Homo sapiens: one gene and its partner. The protein of the gene in region 1 interacts with the protein of each later gene in a pairwise test. Each region holds a gene or a part of one and is shown on either strand. Other genes may lie near its edges.

Region 1 (3,829 bases):
TAATAAGAAAGTGTATTCTGCTGCTATTGACTGTATTTGTCCGTTAAGTTTAATTGGTCTTCAGTGTTGTTCAAGCACTCTGTTTTCTTTCTTATATAATCTTTGGATGTCCTATCCATTATTGAAAGTGGGGTATTGAAATCTCCTACTATTATTGTGTTGCTTTCTCTTTCTCTCTTCAATTCTATCAATCAATGTTTACTTCATATATTTGGTTGCTCTGGTATGGGATACATATATATTATAATTGCTATATCTTACTAGTTAATTCATCTTTTTTTCATTATAGTGTCCTTCTTTGTCTCTCATGATAGTTTTTGACTTAAAGCCTATTTAATCTGATATAAGTATTGCCACCCCTACTCTTCTTTTGACTGCTGTTTCTATGGGTTATCTTTTTCCATTTTTTCACTCTCAGCCTATGTGTGTCCTTAAATCTAAAGTGAGTCTCTTGTAGACAGCATATCGTTGGACCTGGTTTTTAATTTATCTTTTGATAGGGCAGTTTAAGCTATCTCCATTTAAAGTAATTACTGCACCAGGCATAGTGGCTCATACCTGTAATCCTAGCACTTTGGGAGGCTGAGGCGAGTGGATCACTTGAGGTCCCAACATGGCAAAACCTTGTCTCTACTAAAAATACAAAAAAAAAAAAAAATTAGTCGAGCACGGTGGTGCACACCTATAGTCTCAGCTGCTCAGAAGGCTGAGGCAGGAGAATTGCTTGAACCCAGGAGGCAGAGGTTAGCTGAGATCACACCACTGTGCACAAGCCTGGGTGACAGAGTGAGCCTCTGTTTAAAAAATAATAATAAATAAATAATAAAAATAAATAAATATTGATAGGAAATGATTACTTTTATCATTTTATTGTTTTCTGTATTTCTTGTAGCTCTTTTGTCCTTATCTTTTTCTCTTGCTGTCGTATTTGTGATTTAAAAAATTCTTTAGGGTCATATTTTGATTCCTTCCTCATTTTCTTTTGTGTGTCTCTTATAGGTATTTCTTTTCTGGTTGCTGTGGGGCTTATATAACACATTTTATAGTTATGATCATCTATTTTAAGATGATAACAACTTGACTTCAATCACATACAAAAGCTGAACTATTCCACCAGACTCCTTTATGTTATCATTGTAACAAATTTCATCTTTTTATTATGTATCCATTAACATAATTTTATAGTTTTTATACTTTTATCTTTTTACTTCTATATCAAAATTAAAAGCTGTTTATACAATATTCGTAACATTACATGTAATGTAATGTTATAGTACTATAATATGTATTTGTGTGTTTGTATATATGTATATATACTATAATATATATTTGTATGTGTGTGTATATATATATAGTACTATAATATGTACTCGTGTGTGTGTGTATATATATATACACTATAATATGTGTGTGTGTATATATATCTAGATATACACACACACACACACACACACACCTTTTCCAGTAAATTATATATTTTCATTTGCTTTCATGTTACTATCTGGTGTCCTTTCATTTCAACTTGAAGAACTTCCTTTAGCATTTCTTATAAGGCAGATTTCTTTGTAAGAGGACTATTATGTCTTGCCTTGGTTTTCTCATTTGCAAAATAGAATGATAGTGGAAATAAATACATCTTTGAAAAGTTTTATGTGACTTGTAAATATCTCTGCAAAATTTAGTTATCATAAGTATTACTTTACTTTATTACTAAATTACTAAATTATTACTATACTTTAGCATGTGTATTGAGGAAGTTTCCATTATCACATTATGAATTAGTGTAGATTGCAAGGCTTGTGTGTGTTGTGTATGTGTGTGTGTTGTGTGTGTGTGTGCACATGCCCACTAGGTGTAGTTCTGAGGTAGAGACAGAGACCGTTGCTTTAAAATTTGATTGTCCTTTGACCCATAAAATTATGACCCTGGCTGCTCTGGGAATGGTCATTTGCTTCTCCTGAGCGGGGGTGTTCAGTTGCTGATTTCCTAAACCAATTTCCTAAATGGGTAATTGTGTTCTGACTCATACAATTCCCCCTACATTTCCTGACTATTTCAGGTGACTATCTCTTCCTCTTTGCCCTTAATGGATAGGTAATGAAGTCACATGTTTCAAAGTCATTGCTGTGTTTCAGGCTGGGGTGGACTACTCTTACATAATGTCTCACTAGAGAGTCAGAATAAAGTTGGCACACGTGCTCTACCTCCACCTCAATTTTTAACCATGTTGAAAAGAAAGAAGTCTTAAAATGAGAGGTGGCTTTCAGGGGCTAAAGAGCCTCTGGTTGAAAGTGTTTAGTTAGTCATTAGTGTTTCAGATGCATTAAAAGCACAGGCTTTAGGGTTAGTTTGCTTCATTTTTTAAGCTGTGAACTTGGTTGTATGACTTTAACCTTTCGCAGTCTAGTTTCCTCATCTGTGAAAAAGGTGATAATAGTAATATTTATTTCACAGAGCTTTTATGAAGATCAAATGAGATAGTCTCTATAAAAATGCTGGCCGGGTGCAGTGGCTCACGCCTATAATCCCAGCACTTTGGGAGGCTGAGGCGGGCAGATCACCTGAGGTCAGGAGTTTGAGACCAGCCTGGCCAAAATGGTGAAACCCTGTCTCTACTAAAAATACAAAAAAATTAGCTGAGTGTGGTGGTGGGCGCCTGTAATTCCAGCTACTCGGGAGGCTGAAGCAGGAGAATCGCTTGAACCTGGGAGGTGGAGGTTGCAGTGAGCTGAGATCAGCGTGGGCAACAGAGAAAGACTCCATCTCAAACAACAACAATAAACTAGGCACGTTATGTGGCATATGTGTGGGGACCAATGCATGTTGGCATCAGTATGATTGTTTTCATTGATTCAGCCCTTCAGTAAGTCATTGCTGGCAACTCAAGTCTAGCTGGGTGCTGCAGAGAGACAACAAATAATACAGTAGAGCTTCATGCAGCATTTATGAGAATAGAGAGAAGAGAAATGTTAGTTGACACTAAGGCCAGGGCACATTTCCTAGAGGAAGTGGACCTTGGGGGAAAAGTGAAATTTCCCTGGAGAAAAGAAGCAGGAAAGAGAGGCATTTGCCTTCTAGAAGCACCATACAAGTAAATTTATGGGTGAGTTGGGTCTTTCATTCATATAGTCCACTTATAATTATTGAGTTCTCAATATGTGAGGGGTTCTGTGTTTGACTCAGGGAGCACAATGATGAGCAGAGCAAAAACAAAACAAAACAAAAACTATTCCTGCCCTATGTAACTCTCACTTTTCAGGCAAGATGGGTGTGAAACCAATAACAAATAGGAAAGGTATAGGACATCATTGGATGGTGTAGCCTTGAGACTGACTAGGTGTTAGGATGGGAGGTGTCCAGTGGGGCCTCTGTGGGTAACTGAGATTTAAACTGAGACCCATGTGGGAATGGGAGTGAGGTAAGGAGAGATAGAGAAGGCCCTGTGCCAGGAGAACCACAGTGTCTTCTGGGAACTGAACAAAGTCCACGGTGGCTGAGACATAGAGCACATGGGAAAGGTATAGAGAGGACAGTGGTGAGATAGCGTGGGCAAGACCACAGGGGGTCTTGGTGGTCATTCTAAGGATGCAGGCTTTTGTCCCACGTGCAATGGGAAGTCACTGAAGTGTTCTGTTTATGCACAGTAATATTTCAAGACTTATGTTTTGAAAAAAAAATCTGCTATGTGCAGCATGCATTAATGGGGATTAAAATGGAAGTGGAAAGATCAATAAGTAGTTGTGACAAGATGATAGTGGCTTGAATTGGGGTAGTGGCAAAAAATAAAAATAAACAAACACATCAACAGTTGTATCTGGTGAGTCCTGAG
Region 2 (2,529 bases), on another chromosome or scaffold:
TTTACCAAAGCAGGGAGGAAACATTTGGAGTTCAGGGTAGACAGAAAGGGGAGGGCAGAGCAACACTGGGGTGACTGGCCTCGTCATATCCCAGGTTCTGCATAAGCAGATGTGGGGGTGTTGGGGTAAAATGAGGGGCCTGGAAGCAGAGAAGACTGATGACCTGGGGCAAATGGGAGATACATAGACGGGGGGCACTCCAATCCTAGTGGGAAAGGGAGGCCCCATGAGGGTTCCGGGACTTAGGACGGAATGAGTGTCGCCAAGAGAGATGTCCCTGAACCAGAGTAGAACTGTGAGGCCCAAAGGCCATGAATACACAGGACACACAAAGGGACTCGAGGCAGAGACCTGGGACCTTGGATGGAATAAGGGGGTCCAGAAGCAGGAGCCCCATGATGGAGGTTCCTCAGGGAGAGGAAACCCAGCATTTGGGGAGACCTTGGACTTGGGATAGAATATAGGGAGAGTCAGAGGAGACCCAGGACCTAGGACAAAATGGAGGTCCAAGAGGCAGAATCCCTGGACCTGGGACTGAACGCATGATCAAGGGCCAGGATGTCCTCGGCAGCAGAGTGGGGAGCTCAGAGGCAGGGGAGACGCAGGGCCTGGAGTGAAATGAGGGGGAACCCAGATCTCAGGCAGAAGGGAAAACTCAGTGGCCAGGAACACGTGTAGGTATTTCAACTCCTCTGGAGAACCAGTAGCTGGTGACAAAACCCAGCGGTGTCCCTTCCATTCCCTCCACCCTCACTCCCCCTTTCACAAGACACAAGGTTGGTTTTTTTTTTTTGTTTTTTTTTTGTTTTTTTTTTGCTTTTTTTCATTTCTTTTTAATACAAACTTGGATCTTTGGGTGTGTCCTGCCAACAGAAAACAACAACAACAACAACAGAAGAGAAAACCCAAAAGAGTGAAAAATAAGAAAGAAAAAAAAAGCTCCCGCAAGAGGTTCTTCTCCCTCCCCCCCACCATGCGAATTTGCACACCACGGGACCACAGCAGGTTTACAGAATGCAATATACAATCCACGATTTATAATAAAACAGTATATACAATAAATAGGATATTGTTCATTTTTGTCAAACGACCTGTAGATAAATTTCTCAGTGCATACTTGCAGGGGCTCTGGACACCTCGGGGCCCCGCTCGCAACCTCTTGCACACGCTCGCTCTCTCGCTCTCTCTCTCTCTTTTTTTTTTTTGTCTTTTTCTAAAACTGTGTTTTGTTTTTAAGTTTTGTACATTTTTAAAAAGTATTTACAATTGCTGGTTTTGTGCAGAAAGGGCTCACCTTCGGCTTCTGCGTGGAGGAGATGGGTGGGAGGGGGTGGAGGGAGATGGGTCTGCAGGGGGTGTAGGGGGCAGGGTGGGAGGCAGAGGGGCAGGAGCTCCTGCCAGAGGACGATGTGGACGCTGGGAGGGATCTTGGCGTTGGTTTTCTGAAAGCTGCAAAGAAACACAAGAGAAGAGGCAGGAGTGAGCGGCACGCATCGACTGTGCTCTGAGATCAGGGAAGTGAAGAGGGAGACCCCCACCCAGCTCCTCCCAGGATTCAGCAGGGTGAGGGGGAAAGCTAACCACTGTTCTTTCTCACAAAAACTCAGACCTGCCTTCTCTGAGCCCAGTTTCCCCATCTGTAAAATATGCGTGTCCAAGCCCCAAAACACAGGGTGAAGCAGGTGCTGGGTGAGGAGGTGGGGTTCCAGGCAGTGGAATTTGTTAAGAGCTTGGGCTCTGGAATCAGACACAGCTGAGTTCAAATACCAGTGCCACCCTTTAGTAGTGCTATGACCTTGGGCATGTTGTTGAACTTCTGTGAGCCTCAGTTTGCCCATCTGTAAAAAGAAGATAACTGAACTACCCCATTGGTTTGCTGGGAGGATTCAGCGGTATAGGACAGATGAAGCCTGGTCCTTAAGTGCATAATAAATTATACTGATTATTATTCATTATTATTTTTCTGGGGCAGTTAGGCTCTCCAAACCTGCCTCCTCATGTCATGATGAGTTTAGTAATTCCTCCAACTTAGGCTGTTCTGAGGAATGACATCATGGGGAGGGCAGGGCCTCAGCACACAGCACAGGTGTGAACAACTGCTTTTATTTCTTCTAAATCCAATCCTCTTCTTACCAATGCCATTCTGTTCCTTAGAGAGGTGAGGTGAGGAGGAAGTCTTTCTCAGTGAAAGAACAGAGAAACTGCCCAACACAATGCCATCTGTGTTTGGCTTAACCCTGCCTTCCTGAAGCTCAGACACTCCCAAGTTCCCAGTTCCTCCCATCGCCAGACACTCGAGATTGGAAGTACCCCTTTTTCCCAGACAGTTCTCATTATGCTTGCGGGGCCCTGGGGATCTGACTTCCCTACCCAGACCCCCAGCTTGGCTAGACCCCCTGGATTCACAGCTCTGCTAGGGTGAGTGAGAAGGTCCCCTGAAGGACAGGGATGGGCTCGGGACTTCCTAAGAGCTCCAGTCATTATTAGCCTGGTCCTTTCAGACTTCTGTCCTCCTCTCAGAGCCCCGAG

Evidence for each region.
Region 2: the proteins of DOK5 (region 1) and AHDC1 interact in a two-hybrid assay, tested with the Homo sapiens proteins (one large-scale study listed by BioGRID and IntAct).

Annotation. Positions count from the first base shown.
Region 1 is NC_000020.11:54,583,343-54,587,171, forward strand, and holds part of DOK5 (docking protein 5), read left to right. Parts: intron 1-3,829.
Region 2 is NC_000001.11:27,533,468-27,535,996, forward strand, and holds the end of AHDC1 (transcription factor Gibbin), read right to left. Parts: intron 1,450-2,529; 3' UTR 778-1,449; downstream 1-777. UniProt on the Homo sapiens protein: Transcription factor required for the proper patterning of the epidermis, which plays a key role in early epithelial morphogenesis. Directly binds promoter and enhancer regions and acts by maintaining local enhancer-promoter chromatin architecture.